Homo sapiens: one gene and its partners. The protein of the gene in region 1 purifies or fractionates together with the protein of each later gene. This does not show direct contact. Each region holds a gene or a part of one and is shown on either strand. Other genes may lie near its edges.

Evidence for each region. The genes of interacting proteins can lie anywhere in the genome.
Region 2: the proteins of CTH (region 1) and PLAA fractionate together in Homo sapiens (co-fractionation; one large-scale study listed by BioGRID). This does not show direct contact.
Region 3: the proteins of CTH (region 1) and WDR1 fractionate together in Homo sapiens (co-fractionation; one large-scale study listed by BioGRID). This does not show direct contact.
Region 4: the proteins of CTH (region 1) and RPE fractionate together in Homo sapiens (co-fractionation; one large-scale study listed by BioGRID). This does not show direct contact.

The regions. Positions count from the first base shown.
Region 1 is NC_000001.11:70,416,513-70,422,042, forward strand, and holds part of CTH (cystathionine gamma-lyase), read left to right. Parts: intron 1-1,424; coding exon 1,425-1,520; intron 1,521-5,053; coding exon 5,054-5,163; intron 5,164-5,530. UniProt on the Homo sapiens protein: Catalyzes the last step in the trans-sulfuration pathway from L-methionine to L-cysteine in a pyridoxal-5'-phosphate (PLP)-dependent manner, which consists on cleaving the L,L-cystathionine molecule into L-cysteine, ammonia and 2-oxobutanoate.
Region 2 is NC_000009.12:26,926,628-26,930,242, reverse strand, and holds part of PLAA (phospholipase A-2-activating protein), read left to right. Parts: intron 1-1,834; coding exon 1,835-1,935; intron 1,936-2,022; coding exon 2,023-2,143; intron 2,144-3,615. UniProt on the Homo sapiens protein: Plays a role in protein ubiquitination, sorting and degradation through its association with VCP. Involved in ubiquitin-mediated membrane proteins trafficking to late endosomes in an ESCRT-dependent manner, and hence plays a role in synaptic vesicle recycling.
Region 3 is NC_000004.12:10,089,185-10,092,799, forward strand, and holds part of WDR1 (WD repeat-containing protein 1), read right to left. Parts: intron 1-3,615.
Region 4 is NC_000002.12:210,019,638-210,022,875, forward strand, and holds the end of RPE (ribulose-phosphate 3-epimerase), read left to right. Parts: intron 1-31; coding exon 32-154; 3' UTR 155-2,623; downstream 2,624-3,238. UniProt on the Homo sapiens protein: Catalyzes the reversible epimerization of D-ribulose 5-phosphate to D-xylulose 5-phosphate.

The DNA of each region.
Region 1 (5,530 bases):
CTCCTGAGTGGCTGGGATTGCAGGTGTGCACCACCACACCCTGCTAATTTTTTTTTTTTTTTTTTTTTGAGACAGAGTCTTGCTCTTGTCGCTCAGGCTGGAGTGCAATGGCAGGATCTCGGCTCACTGCAACCTCCGCCTCCTGGATTCAAGCAATTCTTCTCCTTCAGCCTCCCAAGTAGCTGGGATTACAGGTGCCTGCCACCACGCCCAGCTAATTTTTTGTATTTTTAGTAGAGATGGGGTTTCACCATGTTGGCCAGGCTGGTCTCGATCTCCTGACCTCGTGATCTCCCGCCTTGGACTCCCAAAGTGCTGGGATTACAGGAGTGGGCCACCACGCCCAGCCTTTTTTTTGTATTTTTAGTAGAGATGGGGCTATTTTGGCCAGGCTGGTCTGGAACTCTTGGGCTCAAGTGATCTGCCCACCTCGGCCTCCCAAAGTGCTGGGATTATAGATGTGAGCCACCACACTTGGCCTAAACTTGCTTATCCTCTGGTTTATTCACCTAATAATTTGTGCCTGAGAATAGCACTAAAGTTATTTTCAGTGGTCAATAACTCCTGATAATGTGCTGTCAGAGATTAGAGATTAACTCCCTAAACTTTTTTTTTTAATGAAGAGAGTCTTGTGTATTCATTGTGATTACACTTATCAGACAAATCTCAGGTCTGATTGCGAGTTTTGTTAAAATATTTACTGAATTGCATATTCATATAATTAACGTATGAATCATATCTTTGCTCTATTCTTTATGTTTGAAATTTCTCTTTTCTTTCTTTTTTTTTTGATATGGAGTCTCCCTCTGTCACCCAAGCTGGAGTGCAGTGGTGCAATCTTGGCTCACTGCAACCTCCACCTCCTGGGTTCAAGCGATTCTCCTGCCTCAGTCTCCCTCGTAGCTGGGATTACAGGCATGTGCCACCATGCCTGGCTAATTTTTGTATTTTTAGTAAACACAGAGTTTCACCCTGTTGGCCAGGCTGGTCACGAAATCTTGACCTCAAATGATCCACCTGCCTTGGGCTCCCAAAGTGCTGGGATTATAGGCATTAGCCACCACGCCTGCCCTGAAATTCCTTTAGTTTGCTATTTTTAAACTGTAGTTTAACTGGCAATAGGCCTTTTATCTCAGATATTTGTAAAGAATTATTTTCTTGAAGTGTTTCAGAGAAATATTATTACCAAGGCAAAATTGACTTAACACAAAAGTATCTGTCCACATTATATATTTTTTATTTTAAAGATATCTTATTCTTGAAATAGAAAAGGAGATTTTGTAATGGTATTAATCAGGGGCCTCTAGCAACTCAGCAGTGATGGCTTCCTATCTGCATTAAAGTAAGTCAGGTAAATACTTGGAGGTGTGTTGTAACCTATAGGCCTGACTTTTCAGCTTACTCTAACTTGATTTTTATTTTAGGTTTGGCCTTTGCTTCAGGTTTAGCAGCCACTGTAACTATTACCCATCTTTTAAAAGCAGGAGACCAAATTATTTGTATGGATGATGTGTATGGAGGTAGGTGACCCCTCTCATTTATATTCTGTAAACTTGTATTTTACAGATAATAAAGTGAGCCCTGAATTAATATTAACAATGTTGCCAGTATTTTTGATTATTTATTATAGTTTACAGGTGTGACAGGTACCTCTATGCTCTCTCAGACTTGGGAAAAGAGGAGCATAAACACTTAGGGTCCATGTTCTGGAACTGCTTATAAGAGAGATTATTTATTTATTTATTTGTTTATTTTTAGATAGGATCTCACTCTGTCACCCGGGTTGGAGTGGAGTGGTACGATCTCAGCTCACTGCAGTCTCCGCCTCCTGGGTTCAAATGGTTCTCATGCCCTAGCCTCCTGAATAGCTGGGACCCCAGGCGCATGCCACCACACCTGACTAATTTTTGTATTTTTTGTAGAGACGGGGTTTCGTTGTGTTGGTCAGGCTGGTCTGGAACTCCTGAGCTCAAGTGATCCTCCCTCTCCAGCCTCCCAAAGTTTTGGAATTACGGGCGCGAGCCGCCTCACCTGGCCAGAGATTATTTACTAAGAATAGTATTTAAGGTGCTAGAATGAATACGTAGCACTTGATCAACTTGCAGACATATTCTGCTCTAGAGAAGATAAGGTTTAGAGAGACAGTGTTCTCCTGTAACTTAATTTTTACCTGTAATAAAGATGAAATACAACTCAGGTTACTCTCAAGAGTTCAACCCCACACATCCCCTTTTGCTTTTTATTTTTTGTTTGGCACCAGGGAAACTTTCAAAAATTTGTTGAGAGATATGGGCCTCTTTTCCCAAAAAATGTTCTTAAGACTACACTGAGTGATTAGCATTTTAATTTTAGGGGTCTCATGGATTGAACCGCTGAAGCCCATCTATGGCTCTAAATTTAAGAACTTCCCATTAACTCTTCATTTAGCATTAGGTATATCTCCTAATGCTATCCCTCCCCCCTCCCCCCACCCCACAACAGTCCCTGGTGTGTGATGTTCCCCTTCCTGTGTCCATGTGTTCTCATTGTTCAATTCCCACCTATGAGTAAGAACATGTGGTGTTTGGTTTTTTGTCCTTGTGATAGTTTGCTGAGAATGATAGTTTCCAGCTTCATCCCTGTCCCTACAAAGGACATGAACTCATCCTTTTTTATGGCTGCATAGTATTCCATGTGTATATGTGCCACATTTTCTTAATCCAGTCTATCACTGTTGGACATTTGGGTTGGTTCCAAGTCTTTGCTATTGCGAATAGTGCCGCAATAAACATACATGTGCATGTGTCTTTATAGCAGCATGATTTATAATCCTTTGGGTATATACCCAGTAATGGGATGGCTGGGTCAAATGGTATTTCTAGTTCTAGATCCCTGAGGAATCACCACACTGACTTCTACAATGGTTGAACTAGTTTACAGTCCCACCAACAGTGTAAAAGTGTTCCTATTTCTCCACAACCTCTCCAGCACCTGTTGTTTCCTGACTTTTTAATGATCGCCATTCTAACTGGTGTGAGATGGTATCTCACTGTGGTTTTGATTTGCATTTCTCTGATGGCCAGTGATGATAAGCATATACCTAACGCTAAATGATGAGTTAATGGGTGTAGCACACCAACATGGCACATGTATACATATGTAACAAACCTGCATGTTGTGCACATGTACCCTAAAACTTAAAGTATAATAAAAAAAATTTAAGAACTTCCATTCCAAAGAAATTAAATGTTAGCTATTTAAAGTGGTGAATGTGGAGAAGACAGGCTTGCCCTTGCCTTTAAGCCCACTGATTTTTGTATTTAAAACAAAAGCAAGGAATTTTGTGAATATACATATACATATATTCCAGATGCTTCCAAATAATTAAAATGTGATTTCTAGAATATTATCATTTTATCTATTTCCTATCTGAACAAAAAGTTAAATCACTAAGTCCTTTAAAACAGCAGTTCCCAACCTTTTTGGCACCAGGGACCGGCGTGTTTTTTTTTTTTTTTTTGAGGTGGAGTCTTGCTCTGTTGCCAGGCTGGAGTGCAGTGGCACGATCTCGGCTCACTGCAACCTCCGCTTCCCGGGTTCAAGCGATTCTCCTGTCTCAGCCTCCCGAGTAGCTGGGATTACAGGCATGTGCCACCACGCCTGGCTAACTTTGTGTTTTTAGTAGAGCCAGGGTTTCTCCTTGTTGGTCAGGCTGGTCTCAAACTCCCGACCTTAGGTGATCCACCTGCCTCGGCCTCCCAAAGTGCTAGGATTACAGATGTGAGTCACTCGTGCCCGGCCTCAGGGACTGGTTTTGTAGAATACAATTTTTCCAGGGACAGGGGGATGGTTCCAGGATGAAACTGTTCCACCTCAGATCATCAGGCACTATTTAGATTCTCATAAGGAGCATGCAATCTAGATCCCTCGAAAGTTAGATTCTCATAAGGAGTGCACAACCTAGATCCTTCCCATGAGCAATTCACAGTAGGTTTCCTCCTGTGAGAATCTGATGCTGCCGCTGATTTGACAGGAGACTGAGCTCAGGGAGTCATATTGCTTACCCGCTGCTCACCTCCTGCTGTGTAGCTGGATTCCTAACAGGCCACAAACCTGTACCTGTCTGTGGCCTGGGTTGGGGACCCCTGCTTTAAAGGAAGGGACTTACTCTTAGTAATCATTTTATCCCTCAGAAATTTGCACAATGTTTCGTATTTTATCTTAGTTTCTTATATTAGCTTGTTGAGTTGAAATTATAGAAATCTGAAACCTTTAGATACTTTTATAATGCAATATAAAAGTCTCATGGCAAACATAGGTATAAAATCCTGAAAATTGTTGATTTTAAAGAACTTTTTACATTATTTTTCAATTTTATATTACCTAGGGTCAGTCTACATACCATCAAAAGTCTAGTTTCTCATTAATGACAGAATATTCTTTTGTTGTTGTTGTTGTTATTGAGTATCAATATCAATTTTTTCTTTAAGTTTTTATGTGTAAAAATCAAATCTAGGTGTATTTATAAAAAATTATTTTAAGTCAAATGATTTACCTTGTTTCACTGTAAAAATCTGGTAGTTTGATTTATATTGTCTCATTTTATCGATTAAAACTTTCAGAACTACATAACAAAAAGATCAAAAAAGTACAAAGAATAGTAACCAATTCTTTTCCATTACAAAGTATATTGAAATTTATTTTGAACCTTTCATTGACATTGATTCATTTAGTTTAGAGTTGAGAACTAGGTAGAAATTGTTTGAAAAGATATGATGTTTCAGGAAGCATGTCACTTAGTGGAGATTGGATGTTTTGAAAAACATTATTTGCTTCATGCTACTTTTGGATCTCAAGTGTGTTTTATTTGACTCTTGAGCCTTTAGAGAACAAACCTTATTATTCTTTACTATATCAGATAGCCAAACTATTTAACCAAACTAGAATTGCTTTTAGTTGCATTTTCCTTGGTGACTGAGAGTTCCATATATTTTGTAAGTGTTTATACATAGAAGGAATGAATGTTTCTTAATGCAATGTTCTTTTCATTTTATCTGATTCCCTTCTGTCTCAGGTACAAACAGGTACTTCAGGCAAGTGGCATCTGAATTTGGATTAAAGATTTCTTTTGTTGATTGTTCCAAAATCAAATTACTAGAGGCAGCAATTACACCAGAAACCAAGGTAACTCAGCTCATTTTCAGTTTTGCCTGTTTTTCCTTCGATGTTTTGTTTTCATCATTTCTGTTTACTAGAGGATATAATTTAATGTGAATAACAAATTTTATTTTATGCCATTGGAAACATCAACAAAATTAAGATAGACTGTCATCTCCGGGGTGTTATAGCATAATGGTAGTACATGATTTCTGGAGTAGAATTCAAATTGTGATTCTGTTATCTTAGTTAGTATATTATCTTGGGCAAATTATTTAACCAAAGTCTCAGTTTCTTCATTTGCAAAATGGAGATAATTATACCGGTTTTATAGAAACGGGAGTGTGAGAATCAAATGAGATAATGAATATGAAATGCTTAGTATAGTTCCTGG
Region 2 (3,615 bases), on another chromosome or scaffold:
GTCCCAGCCACTCGGGAGGCTGAGGCAGGAGAATGGCGTGAACCCGGGAGGCAGAGCTTGCGGTGAGCCGAGATCACACAGCTGCACTCCAGCCTGGGCGACAGAGCGAGACTCTGTCTCAAAAAAAAAAAAAAAATAATAATAATAATAAGGCACTGGCTTTTAAAAGCATGTGCCTTCCTTGAATGTCACAGTAGTAGAGAATTAAAAAAATCAATTTTAAAAAAACACCAAAAACATGTGTGTGACTGAAAGTGTCAGCTACCGTTTTGTCTGGTGACTAATGCAAGTATCATGGCTATGCCTAACTTCAAATGGAGGAGGAAAGTACCATTCTCCCATGTGTCCAAAAAGGGAGAGTTACCACAGCATGCTTTCTGGTCATCAACGATTCAGCTTCATCAAACAATCCAAAAGTCTCCTCTGAGTGATGCTAAGTATTCTAAACATCAGAGAGGTGATGCTTATAAGTAAGCTGTCAACCATACCCAATATACAATTATGGAAAAGGAATAGGATAATCAGAGCAAACACTCATTCAGAAGAGGAAGCAGTGCAAGACAACAGTTTTTGATCTAGAGCCATTCTGAAATCCAAATAAGTAGCTGTCTCAAGGATCCTCAGCTCAGGGTAGAGAGACTTTTGTGATTGCTTCCTTCTGGTCTAGGAAAAAGGTTTCCCAATCCAAGGTTCTTTATGGCTGTGCTTCGACCGCCAATGATACTCTTCTTTCCTAAGATAATTTTTCTTTTTTTTTCTTTTATCTTTTGAGAGAGGGTCTCACTTTCTTGGTCATACCAGAATGCAGTGCTGCTCTCACAGCTCACTGCAGCCTTGGCCTCCCATGCTCAAGCAATTCTCTTACTGGGACGACAGGCGCGTGACACCATGTCTGACTAATTTAAAATTTTTGTTTTAGAGCTGGAGTCTCACTATATTGCCCCAGGCTGGTCTCAAACTCCTGAGCTCAGTTCAAAATGCTAGGATTACAGGCATGAGCCACTCCACCTGGCTAATTTTTCTTTTCTTTCTTTTTTTTTAAAGACAGAATCTTGCTGTGTCACCCAGGCGTGAAGTGCAGTGGTATATGATCACAGCTCACTGCAACCTCTGTGCCCTGGGCTCAAGCAATCCTCCCACCTCAGCCTTCCAAGTAGCTGGGAACACAGGCGCATACCGCCACACCCAGCTATTTTTTTGTATTTTTAGTAGAGATGAGGTCTCTCCACATTGCCCAGGCCGGTCTCTAACTCCTGAGCTCAAGCAATCCGCCTGCCTTGGCCTCCCAAAGTGCAGGGATTACAGGTGTGAGCCACTGTGCCTGGCATAATTTTTCATATTTGTAATTTTTAGCCTGCATAATTTCACATCAAGAAAGTAAGACATTTAATTAACCACTTCATTACTTTTGGACATTGAGCTTGGCTGCAGGTTTTATGGTCACTGTCATGAAAGCAGCCTTAAATATTTATATAAACAGTGTTTCAAAATCATTTACATTATCTCCCTATTATGATTTGTTAAAGCTGGAAGGATTGTGTAGCTCACTTAAGTTCCGCTCCCTCGTTTCACAGACAAGGAATCTGATTTTGAGTAATATTTCTGCAGTTACGTGGCTTGTAAGTGGCACAGCTAGGCCTTGCGCCCAGGCAGTCTGGCACCAGAGTCTGCTCTTGACCACTGTACTCTTATGCGTCTCTGCTGAATTGAGCCTTAGTTAGCTAAGATACTGCCACTTCAAAGAGTGTTTTTAAAATTGGAATGCTTTAGTAACTTTCAATGTTGAGCATTTTTCTGTATGAAAATGTGTTATCCAATGATGTTTTTTCCTTAGTTTGTAGTCTATCATCTGGAAAATTTGGGACATTACTTAGTGGTTCATGGGACACCACTGCTAAAGTCTGGCTGAATGACAAGTGCATGATGACCTTGCAGGTACAGTAGTTCTGTGTAAATATTCTAAAGAATAATTAAGTTGAATGATTCTGTGGCAACTTAAATTGATACTCATTTTACTCACAGGGTCATACAGCTGCAGTGTGGGCGGTAAAGATCTTACCTGAACAGGGCTTAATGTTGACTGGATCAGCAGACAAGACTGTTAAACTGTGGAAGGCTGGAAGATGTGAGAGGACTTTTTCAGGTAAGATCAGGGTAGACAAGTTTTATAATATCATTGCTTTTTATTTGCTCAGATTTTTTTTCTCAGAAGTTTACAAGCATGAAAATATTTGAAAAACATTAGTATATTTAAGCTATTAATTTGAGTTAATGTAATTTTTCTGATGAGTTAATATCTAATACATTTAAAAAGATAATGAAACCTCTCATAAAACAGCCAAATGTAGACTGATAAATAGCTGTCTGATAAGCTATATATAATATGCATATGTGCTTCTGCATATATGTATGTAATTTTTGGTATATAGTTATATTTTTGGTTGTCATTTTAATACTTTTAGCCTGAAACTTCTAAACATAAGCCTTACTGATGGTCAGTCAGCAGTGTTATCTTCATATATGGAAGAAATCATTATTAGTGTCTTTATATTGAAGCACATTGTTTATAACGAATTTCAAGCTTTGTTTATGTTGTGGTTTATGGTGAGTATTCTTTTTAAACCCCAGCTATTAAATAATGCCAATACTGATGCATCTGCTATCTAATAGTAATATCATTGATTTATTTGTAGGGTACTTAAGTATTTACTGTTAATTTTAATTGGTGTTGTTTTTCCTTTTTGAATTTTTTCCTTAAAAGTTGGTAACTACCCTAGATAATATGCAAGAAGTCCCTTTGTACAGATAAAAGTATCTTTTGGCTGGGTGCAGTGACTCACAACTGTAATCCCAGCCTTTCGGGAGGCTGAGGTGGGTGGATCACTTGGGGCCATGAGTTCGAGATCAGCCTGGCCAACATGGTGAAACCCTGTCTCTATTAGAAATACAAAAAAATTCGCCAGGAGTGGTGATGCACACCTGTAATCCCAGCTATTCGGGAGGCTGAGGCACAAGAATCTCTTGAACCCTGGAGGCACAGGTTGCAGTGAGCAGAGGTAGTGCCAGTGCACTCCAGCTTGGGCCACAAAGTGAGACTCCATCTCAAAAAAAAAAAGAAAAACAAAAAAAGTATCTTTTGATGGAAAGTGGATGATGACTAAACATCCTTCTGTTTCTGCTTCAGTATATAGTCTATATATATGTATCAAGTCATTATTAATCTGTGATAGCTACTCTTAAGTCAACAGATACTGAACATAGGAAATCTGACTTCACAAGCTTCAGAGAATGTTTTGTTCTTAAATTTATGGGCTACTCTTTGTTATATATTTCTTTTATATTTGAATATTATATATTTTATAAATTACTCTTGTTGGGGAAGAAAAATTAAAAATGAATTTTCAGGTGAAAACAAATTATTGGGGTCAAAATACTATTTCTGGAGGTTTTTGGAGAAGGTAGGATGAATGTAAAATAACTTCTGAAGACTGGTGATAAAAAAATATTGCTAAACCTTAAATACAAATTTTGGTTATCAGGCTTTCAACAAAAAAAAAGATTTCTCTAACTTGAAAATTAATTTTTACTACTCACTGATATGTTTTATAATGTTAG
Region 3 (3,615 bases), on another chromosome or scaffold:
TACAAGCTCCGCCTCCCGGGTTCACGCCATTCTCCTGCCTCAGCCTCCCGAGTAGCTGGGACGACAGGTGCCCGCCACCACGCCTGGCTAATTTCTGTATTTTTAGTAGAGATGGGGTTTCCCTTTGTTAGCCAGGATGGTCTCAGTATCCTGACCTCATGTTTCCCCGCTTTGGCCTCCCAAAGTGCTGGGATTACAGGAGTAAGTCACTGCGCCTGGCCAATAATTAACTTTTAAACAAAGTTAATGATTATGACCTTCATCAAGAACAAGAGCCTGAGCGACTAAAAGGAAATGACATGACTTCCAGGGGCGACTCTGTTACTCGAATAAGGAAATGAATGCATTCTTTCCGCAGTCAACAAGAGTTTGTATCAGAGACTGATCCTTAAATAAGCAGTTGTAAAGCTGCCAACACCTGCCCTGCCCTCTTGCTGCCCACCTGCAGGCGGCGCTAACCCGGCAAATGCACATCCAGTGCTAACAACTCTCTTGGCACAGGAAGGGCTCGCTGCTCAGCAGGTACGAACACTAACCTTCAGGAAAAGCAATTCAACCCCAAGGCGGATAAGCTGCCCCGCGCTCTAAGTAAATCACGGACTTAATTTTAAAGCATGAGCTACCTGTGTGGGGGACCTGCCTGTGTTTGATTGTGTAATGTTTTCAGTTGAATTGTGCCTCTCCAAAAGACATGCTGAAGTCCCAACCCTGGGACCCAATGAGACCTTATTCAGAAACAGGGTCTTTGCAGATGCAGTCCAGTTAAAATGAGGTCATTAGGGCAGGCTGTAAATCCAGCAGGACTTGGTGTCCTTTTAAGAGGGAAATCTGGACACAGATACAGAGTTGGGGTGAAGCTGGAGGCAGAGATGGGAGTTCTGCTCACAAAAAGTAACCCCCAGGGCTGTCAGTATCTGGGAAAGACAAGGAAGGACTCGGAGTGCGTCCCTGCCCACACCTTGACTACAGACTTCTGACTTCCAGAGAATAAATTTCCATTGTTTAAGGCACCCAATCTGTGGCTTAACAAACTTTGTTATGGCAGCTGCGGCACACTAACACATGTCATCAATGCTGCCTCTGACACTCATGTAATAACCCACCAAGGTGAGCTGTGCCCATTTCACCAATGAGGAAACATAGGCCCAGAAAGAGGAATCAGGTGCCTGGGGGTCCCAAGGGCCACACTCAAGGAAATCGATGTCCCCACAAAGTCCGTCAGAGTCAGCAGAAGATACAGACACCGTTCAGTCTGGCAATGTCCCCAGGGCAGGCAGTTCTCGTAGAGAGGCCACTCCCCGCCCCAGAAATCTCTCTAGGCCCAAGAGTGATGCGACCCCAGACCTGTGGCACAAAAGCAACCCTGGGCTTCCTGCACTTCAAAGATTAAACCATTTCCTCCAGCCAACAACCCAAACTTGCTTGCCTCAGGTAAGCCCTCCTCAGGGTGCTGCCAAGACCTGCTCACGGCTGGGGTCAGGCTGGACACAGGCCCAGCAGGCCCTGGCCCTGCACCTGAACCAGGATCTCCCACCTCATTGACCCGTGTTTTAACTTAGATGAAAGCCGGAGAAATCACACATTCTGACAAGGGGAGTCCCAGTGCTCCTCGGGAGCTACTGAGGGCGACGACAGTCACGTTTCCATCCCAGTGGATGAGCAGATTGTCCTCCCTGCCTCATTTCAGGGAGTGCTGTCATGGTGCTTGCATTCCGTTCTATGACTGAAGAGCTCGTCCTCTGTAGGTTGTGGTCACCGCCCAAGAGGACAGGGATGGAAGCACCAGGCTGGCTCAGTCTGAACTTGGGCTCAGGTCTGTGATCAGCTCATGAGCGATGGGGCTGGCGAGCCCTTTGCCTGCCCCCCGCACCTGGGTGCTGCAAGGCTTGGCCAGGCAAGGCAGTGCCAAACTACAAGGCGTGCAGTACCCAGGCGGGCCCAGGGCTCACTAGGAGATGGAACGGGGAACACAGGACTGGACGGTCGTCTCTGGCTATGGTGCTAGAGGTCACCCTTCCTTGTGTTTAAGCGCAGTTCTGCATCTTGCTTCTTTAGTTCCTTTTGTACCTTTTTCACTAGTTCTAAGGCTGGTCTTCTTTGCTTAAATGGTCTGTGTTCTAAGTTTTCTAGCACTTCTAGGTATGTGAAGTTGGGGAAAGCAGTTTCCCCAGAAGGCCCGATCCACTCAGCTGCTGAGAGTGAAAACCAACTTTCCAGATGGGGCTCCAGGGCCCTCCAGAGACGCTTTACCCCCCGAGGGGCCATGGAGAGCCTGCGGGCAAATTCTTCACAGGAGAACACCAGGCCTGGAGCAGCGGGTAACTCAAAGCCACATCACCTGCACGAATCTGGTCTCCAGTTTCCTGTCCAGAGCTCTCGTCTCAGCTGCGCTGGCTCCTGGGCCTTGGGCAGCTGCTCAGCAAGCCTGGGGGTGCTCCAGCCCAGAGTCATCCCAGAGGTCAGATCCCTAACTCCGCAGGCCCATTTGCATCCCCCCTTCTGCTGTTACCCACCATGAGGGAGCCGTCATGCACTGAGGGCCTGTTCCCGTCGGGGTTAGCCGATGGGGTCCACCTCCTATCTGTGTCAACATGGCCCACGGTCCCTTGTCCATGTCAGTCCATAGGGTCCACATTCCCTGTGTCAAAGGGCCTCACAGGGCAGTTCCCGAGAGAGCTGCAGGAAGGAGCCGGCTGCAGTGAAGGCAGTGGTGGGAGGGCCTGAGGCAAAGCACTTCTAGACCCCCTGTTGGGCGGGGGGTGGACAGGGGTGTATGCACCACTACTCCTTCCAGATGAGGCCACACAACCTTGACCATGACATAACCACAGCTCGAATCCTAGACCTCTGACCAGCACATCGAGTTCTCTCGCTGCCGAACTCCGCTTCCTTGGCCAGCACAGCCTCGCCTTGCCGCTGACTTCGCACTGGCTCCTCCAAGCCAGCCTGAGCTTCCTTGAAGTGCAGTGGGCCAGGGAGATGGCTGGGCCTGGCTGACCCCTGGGTCCTTCTGACGAATGAGTTAAGAACTAAGAGAAAAGAGCTCACCCCAAATGCCCGAATCACCCAAGCCCAGATGAGTGGGTGGGACAGTGGACGCTGATGGCTCTTGCTACAAAATGGAGGAAACTAATCAGCCACTGTTCAATTCCAACCTGTCACAAGTGCCCATTTCAGTGGCTCCCTGAGGTCAAAACATGGACATTCCTACTCCAGTTCCAGGTCCCAGAAGCGAGGACATTCCTGCTCGCGCAAACCCCAGGACCCCAAATCCAAGTCTGTGGTTCACCTCTGCCGACGCCTCCCACAGGCTCTGGCAGGGTGGTGTCATGTGTCCCTCCCTGGCCCCAGAACCCAGCAGGGGCAAGGGAGGGGCCCGGCACAGTCCAGGGACACAGATGCCCCTCGAGTAGCTCATCCCCATCACCTTTTCCTGCACCTCGAGCCAAGGAGTCCAAATGCAGACACTGATGTCTGCTCCTGAAATAGCCCCTTCAAAGAGAGAAGCCGCGAAAAGCCCATTAACCAAAAAAAGCGAGGGCTAAAAATAGCCCTTTCCACACGGAGGCCCGGCCAGTGAACAAAGAGGGAGAGGGATTGGGGAACCTCCCGGGG
Region 4 (3,238 bases), on another chromosome or scaffold:
GAGGCATAACCTAACTGTTTACTTCTTCCAGGCAGGAGCTAACATGATTGTGTCTGGCAGTGCTATTATGAGGAGTGAAGACCCCAGATCTGTGATCAATCTATTAAGAAATGTTTGCTCAGAAGCTGCTCAGAAACGTTCTCTTGATCGGTGAAACCATAAGGAGCCCAGTGTTCCTGTTCATGAAATCTCCCTTTTACTGGAAAACAGGAATATTGACTACCAAATCACAATGCAATTGAAGCCGTACTGCTTTTTTGAGCAGTTATTCATTCCAGTGATTAAAACTGATTGTGCAGAATATTCTAAGAGGTCAGAAATTGGTGTGTATAACTACATTTTTAGTGATGCAATTTATTGATTAGTGAGTAAGATACTGTTTTTATTGAGAGATTTGATTTTTATAAAGTAAAAATACGGCTGCATTAGGGTTACAAACAGAAAAGTGTCTTAATGTCTAAGGAGGGCATATTAGCTACACTACAAAAACAAATTTTGTCTGTACTTCTGAAAAGAATTTTGTTGTTTCTCAGCTGTTTTCCAAAAGCAAAGGAAGTCTTTATGGTTTTTTTCTATTTCATGTTATTGTGATTTGTTTATAAGTTTGGGTGGGGTGCATACCATATTCTTGGTTCTTAAAATCTATCACTTTTCACCTTACACTTGATGTGTGAAAACTATAAAAACAATGTGTGAAACCCAGGGGTTCTAAAATACAAGCATAGATTTTATCAGGGTGTTTTGTCAAAGCAGGTTATTCAGTGATTCCTCCCCACCATTCTTAAGAACGTTAAATAATGCTGTTGTGTTAGCTCTGAGTAGAAAGGAAAAAGTAAAACCTCTGTTTGGAGGTAATATTGGGTTGAATTCTGACTGCCCCTTTCTAGCTGGACCTTTAACAAATCACCCAATCTTTTTTGTGTTTCTCTAAAGTCATTTATACATTAAATGTAATTATAGCAACTGTGGGGTTCTGTTGAGAATTAAGAGCTAACACTATATATGTAAAGTTTCCAGTACTAGTCCCAGAATTTAGAATATGCTCAACACAAAGTAAACAGCATTATATAAGTTTATATTTTTGTGAGTTATAAAGTACTTTGATATATTCTCATTAAATCTGTAAATCACCTCTATAAGTAAGTGGTAATAATAAAGCAGATATTTTTGTCCCCATTTAAAAAATGAAGAAATTAATGCTTAATAGGGTGGTACCCTGGAAAGGATCTGGGAAGTGGTAGAATTTCTGGTCTGTACTTTTACAAATGGAGCCCTTGGGAGGTGGGTTAGGTAAAAGAAGCTTTTTACTTAACGTTGTCTTATTTCCAGTCTAATTTTACGCTGTAGCAGAACCAGATGGCTGAGAAAATTCTGGAACTATGGATCTTGACCCCAAGGATATATTATTTTATTCCAAGAAAGATCAGGTAGGCGAAAAGATGACAGGATACAGAGTCAATCCATAAACTAAATATTTATAACTGTTCTGAATTATACAGAGTCTAAAAATATGTGTCAGCTACTTCATTCCTGTAAATACTCTTGCTGTGTTATAAATATGGCAAGAAATAAACATGACCAATATCAATAGACTTCTTGAGGCTACTATAAGTTTTGAGAAATAAGGTTCAAAAAATAAGAATGCTAACACTTAAGCACAGACTAGAGCTTGCTTGGGTTTCTTCCTGCATTACAAGGTAAAAATTTGTTAATGTTTGTTTTTATTCAGCTTGGGAAAGCTTTGTGCCATGAATACGTCGCATTTAATAACAAGCAACACACGGCATATAGAAATAACTTTAATTAAAAAACTTACATAGAAGATTATAATATCAGACGTGACAAAGATTTGAGTTTATTTGCCTGGACAACTTGGGTTTGTCTGGCTTTTGTTTTCTTTTTCTTTAAAAATAAATGTACAGTAAAACTACAAGCAAAAGTTTGTCAGTATTGAATTGAATTTTTTACCCCTTAAAAGGACTAGTATAATTTCCAATCTCTAACAAAAACTTAGTGTCAAATCTCACAGATAAGGCCAAATGGCCAATATTTTCAGTTATGTGGGTAGTACAACTTGAGTAACCTTTTTTACATGACAAAAAGTGAGTTATATAAATTGTCCTCAACTTTCACATAGGAAAAAAATGGTTTAATAGCTTCAAAAGGAATTTTCTTTCATGTATACTCTTCAGTATCCAATATTGAAGCTTTGTTCTTTGAAAAATTTTAATTTCCAATCTAGGATGCAAGCAAGAATATATGTTTATTTGAATAGAGTAAGCTATGGCAAAGAATGACCAAATTAGCTAGAAATAGAAATCAGCCAGAATTAACTAATTTCTTGCTAATCTAGAAATACAATCATCTTTTTTTTTTTTTTCAAATTTTATACTGATAGGGCTTTACTGTTTGTGGCTCATTTTAAAACTGGTGTCTTCTCTTCATGAGACACATTAATTGGTAAAACTCAAATTGAGTTTTCAAAGATGTGATAGTATTAAAGTGCACCAATATTTGACTCAAATTTGCTTGCTTTATTTTGTTAGGAGTAAACAGAAAGTAGCCTGTGTTTAGTCCCAAAGATAGCAGTGATTTTGAATAAAGGAGTTTTGTGTTGCCTGGATATATGAATTTCTGTAAATAACTTCTGTTGGTTAAACATGTTAAAACAACAACAACAACAACAAAAAACTTCTGTCTCTATATTCAGGACGTTCAGATGTCTTTTATTAGTGGAAACCTGTGTTTTATCTATTCTGCAGCTTACATTTCATAGGGTAGTTCATACATGCATTTCCAAGGGGAGTGGGTCATTGCCAGTGTTTTAAAAACTACATAGGGGTGTGTGTGTGTGTGTATGTTTATTTTATACACACATATTTGTATATTCTAATATATTACTAAGGCAATTTTAATGAATTACCATGTATATAAAAAAATAGCTGTCACTTGGCACACAGGTTTGTATGTATGTGTATATATATATGTATGTATGTATGGTGTGGGTACATAGTCTTAAAAATTACCCAGTAATGTGATTTGACATCAAGTTGCAGCAATTAATATCTTGGTGTTTGTAAGTAAGTTGCATGATAAACACAAATGACTACCACTTGTCTGTAGATGAAAATCTGGTTACCCTTATGGTTCCAGAAGGAAAAACAGACTTATCTTGCCTGTTTCATAAACAGCATAAAAGATTAATACATGCAGAACATGCTCTTATTCTGGAGGGGAT